Homo sapiens: one gene and its partner. The protein of the gene in region 1 purifies or fractionates together with the protein of each later gene. This does not show direct contact. Each region holds a gene or a part of one and is shown on either strand. Other genes may lie near its edges. The genes, in order: C8orf58 and FCN1.

Region 1 (3,912 bases):
CACTCTGGTTCTCTCTCTGCCTGTGAGAAGCGGAATGGGTACTGTCTAGGAGGACTGGGCAGGGTGGGGGCAACCCAGAGGACCCATGGCTAGCAGGGAAGGGCCTGGGCTTGAATGTGACTCTGTTGAGACATGGCCAGCAATTCTGGCACTTGGCTGTCATTCGGCTGGCCTGCGCAGAGATTGGCTGTGGGCCTCAGTTTCCCCATTTTATAAAGTTTTAAAATCTGATAGTTTGTGGCTCTCTGATAAAGGCTCCTGCAGTGGGTGTTTGGGGACTGGTTCCAGAAAGGAGCAAAGGGAAGGGGATGCACAGACTGTCTTACCCCTCCCGGTAAACAGCCACTTCCTTCCAGTGGCTCTGGCTCCAGCCTCTCCCCTCCCCTAGAGGTCCAGGTGCTAGTCTGCACGTCCTCCAGCTCCCTTATCTGCCTCCGGGGGATTTGGGTCCTGCTGGGATTTTTCCAGCCCTGCCCCCTCCCTCTGGAGGAGGTGCCTTCTTTAGAGGACACCAGCCCCAGTCTGGTCACCAGGCTCTCTCTCATCTTCAGTAGCTTCTTGGGCTCCTTTTAGGTTGGGGACTGAGGGGTGGAATCCCACGGGCCAAAGGCAGGGTGAGGTGGGAACAGGGGGACATTTACACTTTGGCCCAGTCTCCAGGCGGCTCCCCGCTGGCTCGCATCTTTCCAGACCTTGAGACCTACCCAGTCCCCAGCTTTAGGGAGCCCGGGATGAGAAAGAGGCAGGGGACCGGGAGGGGGTTCAGATCTAGCTGAGGACACACGCGCGTTCTGCAGTTGTAAAAGATTTCCCGGTGGGCAGGATCGTTTCCCCTCCCATCGCCCAGGTTTCCGAGCGGCCAAGAGACTGGCCCCCAAGCCACACTGCTAGGGAGCGCCGGGTGCCCGCGTCCTGGTCAGCGCTCTTCCCACCGCCAGCACGTGGGGCTCCCATTTCCTTCCTGGCTCTTGTCCGGTCCTCCAGCCAGCCCCGGCTCTAAGTCCGCGGCAGGAAGACGGACGCTGCGTGTGAACCCGCGGGGCCGGGCGGACCGGCGCCCCGAGCCAGACGGCGTCCCCAGGCGGGGGCCGGGTCCTCGCAGAACAGCTGATCGGGACCCTTATTTTGGCCACAGCCACAGTTGGGGGCGCCACCCAGTCCGTGCCTTCGACCTCGTTCTTGGCGACCCGGCCACCTGCGCCCCCCACCTGGCACCCTTGCCTTCCCTCCTCTCGCCCCTCCCCTCCCTCCTCTCGCCCCTCCCCTCTCCTCTCCCCTCCCCTCCCTCTCCTCTCCCCTCCCCTCCCTCTCCTCTCCCCTTTCCCTCTCCCCTCTCCTCTCCTCCCCTCTCCCCTCTCCTTTCCTCCCCTCTCCCCTCTCCCCTCCCTCTCCTCTGCCCACCCTCTCCTCGCCCCTCCCCTCTCCCCTCCCTCTCCCCTCCCCACCCTCTCCTCTCCCCTCCCCTCGCCCTCCTCTTCCTCGCCCCTCCCCTCCCTCTCCTCGCCCCTCCCCTCCCTCTCCTTTCCCCTCCCTCGCCTCGTTCCTCTCATCCCTCGTCTTGCCCCGCCCCTTTCTCCTCGCCCCCTTCTCCTCGCCCCTCCCCCTTCCCCTCGCCCCTCCCCTCCTCTCGCCGCTCCCCTACCTTGCCTCGCCCCTCCCCTCCCTCGTCTCGCCCCTCCCCTCTCTCCTCGCCCCTCCCTTCCTCGTCTCGCTCTTCCTCTCTCCTCCCCCTAGGCCACGCCCCCCACCGCCCCGCCCCCCGCCCCCCCAGCCCCGCTCCCCGCCCCCCCAGCCCCGCTGGGAGTGTCTGGGGGCCGCGCCCAGCTGGGTCGGGACGCGCTCCCTGAGCTGCCCGAGCTCCGCGGGGACTCGGGCCGGGATCCTCGGGCGGCTGCATTGGCCGGGGCCGGGGCCGGGAGCGGGCCATGATGGGCCGGCGGCGCGCCTTCGCCGTGGACGGCCGGGGTGAGTCACCCACCCCCAGGCTGGCCGGGCTCCCCCCTGCCCCGGAGCCGCTTCCCGCCCCCAAGCCGGGCACCCTCTCTCAGTTTCTTGCCCAGCCCCGCGCACCCCGCGGGCGGAGCCCGCGCCGCTGCGCCTCCCTCGCCGCCTCCCTGGAGGGGCGGTCATCAGGGGACGCCATGCAGGCTGGAACCCCTTTGGGCCCAGGCGTTAAACCAGCCACCGCCTCCGCCCCACTTCCTCCGGCTCCGCTTCCCTCGCCTTCCCGCTCCTTCTGAGGATGTGGGAATCCGCCCGCGCCCCAGCCCCCTCCGTGGCTGCGGACCCCTCTCCCACCCAGTGACCTCCTGGCCCACTTCCTTGCCCAGAGGGGCCTGGGTTGGCATTCGGCTCCCGCGTGCCCCGCAGCTCGTCCCCGCCCCCCTAGCCTGTTTCCCGTACCGTTCATTCCGCCAGGACGCCCCGTCGCCAGAGGGCCTGGCGGAGGTGACAGTGAGGGGGTGCTAATGCTGCCCCTTCGTCCCTTTCTTTCACTTCAGTTCTTTCATTTTAAACTTTTCATAAAATCTTCACTATTGCTCACTTACAACAAAAGCCCAAATCGGTTATAGCGGTGATTTTTATCACTCTCCCGGTGAGCTGCAGGAGAGACTTCACCTGGCATCCTGATGCCGCAGGGGCCCCCAGAGAGCAGGTTGGATCCCAGGCTTTCCTCTCTGTACCCTCTCCCCTCTCCCTGAAGCTGGATACAGTCCTACTCCCGCTTGGGGAGCAGCGGAAGAGCCTGTGGCTCCCTACTTCTGACTCGGGAGATCGTGGGCTGATCCTAGGTGGGAAGCGCAGGCGCAGGCCGTCTAAGGGATTGATGGATGTGGCCTGCCAGGGCTTTGCCTACCACACAGCTCAGAGCACGGGTTCCCTGTCGCTAACAACCGTTGCGAAGGGAATCCCATCCACACATCTCCCAGACAGCTGGGGCCATATCCGGGCTGCCCGTGGCTGTCCAGTGACCGCCCTTCCTCACTGCTCCGGGACACTTCTCCCTGGGGCAGTGCTGCCAGCCTTCAGGAATGCTGGGGGTGTTGGGGGTGGCCTGCCCAGCCTGACGCTGACTCTCCATGCAGATGGGGCTGGCGAGGGCCTGGCACGGGGCTGCATAGTGCCTGGAGTCACCAGCACCTACAGACGGATCCCCGACGCTGCCCACGGGTGCTCATCCTGGGAGAGAGGTGACAAGTTCAGAGGTGTCGGCAGGGAGGCACTCTTTCTCAAACTGGCCTCCCGGGACTCAGGAGTGGAGATGGCAGTTGGGGACAGCCCCCTGGCCGCCTTACCGGGCCTTTCTCAGGACTCCCTGGACTTTGAATCCTCAGGGAGTTCTGAGCCCCCCGCCCAGGTAGGCCGACTCCTGGCCAGCCAGAAGCTGGGGGAGGTGTTGGAGCGGTCCCGCCGGCTCCCAACAGCTCCCACCAGCTTGTCAGGACAACACCGCTCCCTGCGGCTGGCAAGCAAGCCTGAGCGTGAAGTGCCCCTTGGAGCAGGGCAACAGGAGTCCATGGAGGCAGACACAGACCTAGAGGCAGGCCTGGAAGAAGAGGCGGTGAGTGCTCACTCTCAGGCTGGGTTTAAGAGTGGGATGGACAGCCTAGCTCCTCTGGTTCTCCCTGGAGCTCTCTCTGGGTGGGGCACTCCCTGCCCCTAATTGATGGGTTGTGTCATAGGTTCTTTCTGCACCCCAGTTCCATTTGTGCACGGCCACCTCTGCAGAGGAGGTGGGCAGCTACGGGGGCCCTTCCTGGCACTATGCCCCGCTGGGCAGTGGGGAAGCCGGCTGCGTGTGTTCCTCCTCGGGGCCCACTCTGCTCCCATCTGCTGGCTGAGCCCAGCCTGGCTGCTTAGGGTAGGGCAGGAGCCCTACTGGCTGAAATCTCCCCTATCTCACAATGTCCC
Region 2 (2,902 bases), on another chromosome or scaffold:
GAACCAACCTGGAAAATGGCTTGGCATCAACTGTTGGAGAAGAAGACACACAGTCCTCTAACCTGCCAGTCCCACATCAGGGCCTGGATATGGCCGTCATGTGTACCAGGGAGCATGGCCAGGAATCTTTACAGCCAAATACTCACCATAGCACCAAACTGGAATCAGCCGACATACCCATCAGGAAGAGAATGGATGTTAAAAAATGCAAGGATAGCCATTGGGTAGAACGCCATACAGCCATGACAATTACACAGTGACACCTACACACAAGGAGCATGAGTCTCACAAACATGGCAGCAAAAGGAGCCTGTTCAAGAGGGTATGTGCTATGGATTCCATTGTAGATAAAGTTTTTCAAAAGCAAAAGTAGCCAATGGTATTTTGGATGCATATTTAGGTGGTAAATGTATACAGGAAAAATAAGAAAGTGATTGTATTTGAGGGTGGGACCACATGGTGACTGGGAAGGGACAGGGACAAGCCTCTGGGGTTCTGGCAATGCTCTGTTTCTTGACCCAGGTGGTGATTGTAAGGATGTTTGTTAACTAGTGATGAAAATAATTAAGCTGTACTTTTGCTTTATACACTTTTGAGTACATGTTATGTTCCACAATTTAAAAACTACTTATAAAGAAACTGCACATGCTTGGATCCAGGAACATGAGCTACAGGCACATCCTCCACTGATGCCCAGTGTTCTTGACTCAATACCTGTAAGGAGAGGTCCTTGTAGCCCATTGGGGGCTGACCAGACCCTACTACGCCCCTGCCACAATCTCTAGTCCATCACAAAATCCACTATTGGGATAGTACTTTCGTCCCTCAGTAGGTAAGCATTTTTACAACCTAGGAAGACTTAGCTTTAAGTCTAGAAATGATTAGTATAAATATAAAATATAAATATGATTAATATAAATATAAAATAGCCATAGAAATATGCCTTTTAGTTTGTTTTTTGAGACAGAGTTTTACTCTGCCACCCAGGCTGGAGTGCAGTGGCGTGATCTCAGCTCACTGCAATCTCCACCTCCCAGGTTCAAGAGATTCTCATGCTTCAGCCTCCCAAGTAGCTGGGATCACAGGCACACACAACCATGCCCAGCAATTTTTTTGTATTTTTAGTAGAGATGGGGTTTCGCCGTGTTGGCCAGGCTGGTCTTGAACTCCCGACCTCAAGTGATCCACCCGCCTCTGCCTCCCAAATTGCTGAGATTACAGGCGTGAGACACTGTGCCTGGCCAAAATATGCCTTTTGTATTAAGGAATCTGGACAGGTTTGATTTTTCACAGTCTTGTAATGTTTAAATAATTTGGCCTATTATGAAGAATCTCACAAATCCAATATAAAATGTGGAACTAACTAATCAAAATCATCTTGTAATATTACATGGAAATCTTAGTGCGTTTATACACGGTATTGGCATATTTAAGAGACTTTGAGCTCATTGCATTTCTAAGTTAAATTATTAGATTTCTTAAGATTTAAGTTAAATTATTAGATTTTTAAAGATTAATTAGTGCTAAGGAGGGTTTTCTCATTAGACAGCTGAAATGCCGCAGGAGAAATTTGAGTGTATTCCACTTCTTATTGCAATTTTAAATGTTTGAAGTTATTTAAAGAACTAAATTTATGGTATCCAAAAGCTCTAAAAAGGTGACTCTTAAGATTTGCAGGTCTTATAAATAGAAAAACAAGAACTGTAAGCCAAACTTAAAATATTCAGGATGAATTGAGTTTTTGAATTTGTAGCTTTCAGAAACTGAACATTAATTTTAAGAAGCAAAGCAGGCTGGGCACAGTGGCTCACGCCTGTAATCCTAGCACTTTAGGAGGCTGAAGTGGGTGGATCACTTGAGATCAGGAGTTCAAGACCAGCCTGGCCAACATGATGAAACCTCCTCTCTACTAAAAATACAAAACTCCGCCAGAAATCGCTTGATCCCGGGAGGTGGAGGTTGCAGTGAGCTGAGATCGTGCCACTGCACTCCAGCCTGGGGAACAGAGCGAGATTCCGCCTCAAAAAAAAAATAAAAATAAAAAGAAGAAGAAGAAGAAGGAGAAAGAGGGAGAGGGAGAGGGAGAGGGAGAGGGAGAGGGAGAGGGAGAAGAAGAAGAAGAAGAAGAAGAAGAAGAAGAAGAAGAAGAAGAAGAAGAAGAAGAAGAGGAAGAGGAAGAGGAAGAGGAAGAGGAAGAGGAAGAGGAAGAAGAAGAAGAAGAGGAAGAAGAAGAAGAAGCAGCAGCAGCGGCCAGGCGCGGTGGCTCACGCTTGTAATCCCAGCACTTTGGGAGGCCGAGGCGGGCGGATCACAAGGTCAGGAGATCAAGACCATCCTGGCTAACATGATGAAACCCCGTCTCTACTAAAAATACAAAAAAATTAGCCGTTCATGGTGGGGGATGCCTATCGTCCCAGCTACTCGAGAAGCTGAGGCAGGAGAATGGCGTGAACCCAGGAGGCAGAGGTTGAAGTGAGCCGAGATCGCACCACTGCACTCCAGCCTGGGCGACAGAGCGAGACTCTGTCTCAAAATAAAAGAAGCAAAGCAAGCTTATGAAGAGATGAAGAGTCTTTTCCCATCACCAATTCCTCCCCAACTCACATCAGCAGAACTGAGAGAGCTTTTGTGATTTGAGGGATAAAGCTGAATGGGTGAAAAGAAATCAAGCCCTCCTCCTCTTGGGCCAGTGCTCTTCTTCCTGGCCATGGGACCTCTCAAGTAGGAGTGTAGGCGTGGGCCCATCCAGCAACATTTGGGCATTCGTGGACATCCACATAGTGTTGTTTCTGTTCTTTTCCTCTCCTTCCTCATCTTCTCTCGTCTTTGTTGAATATTTTTATTATCCCGTCACCTCCTCTATCAGCTTATAACTTGTTCATTCTTTTCCTATCTTTTGGTG

What was found.
Region 2: the proteins of C8orf58 (region 1) and FCN1 purify together in Homo sapiens (affinity purification with mass spectrometry; one large-scale study listed by BioGRID and IntAct). This does not show direct contact.

Annotation. Positions count from the first base shown.
Region 1 is NC_000008.11:22,597,796-22,601,707, forward strand, and holds the start of C8orf58 (uncharacterized protein C8orf58), read left to right. Parts: upstream 1-1,803; 5' UTR 1,804-1,925; coding exon 1,926-1,965; intron 1,966-3,086; coding exon 3,087-3,562; intron 3,563-3,912.
Region 2 is NC_000009.12:134,905,130-134,908,031, reverse strand, and holds part of FCN1 (ficolin-1 precursor), read left to right. Parts: 3' UTR 1-2,902.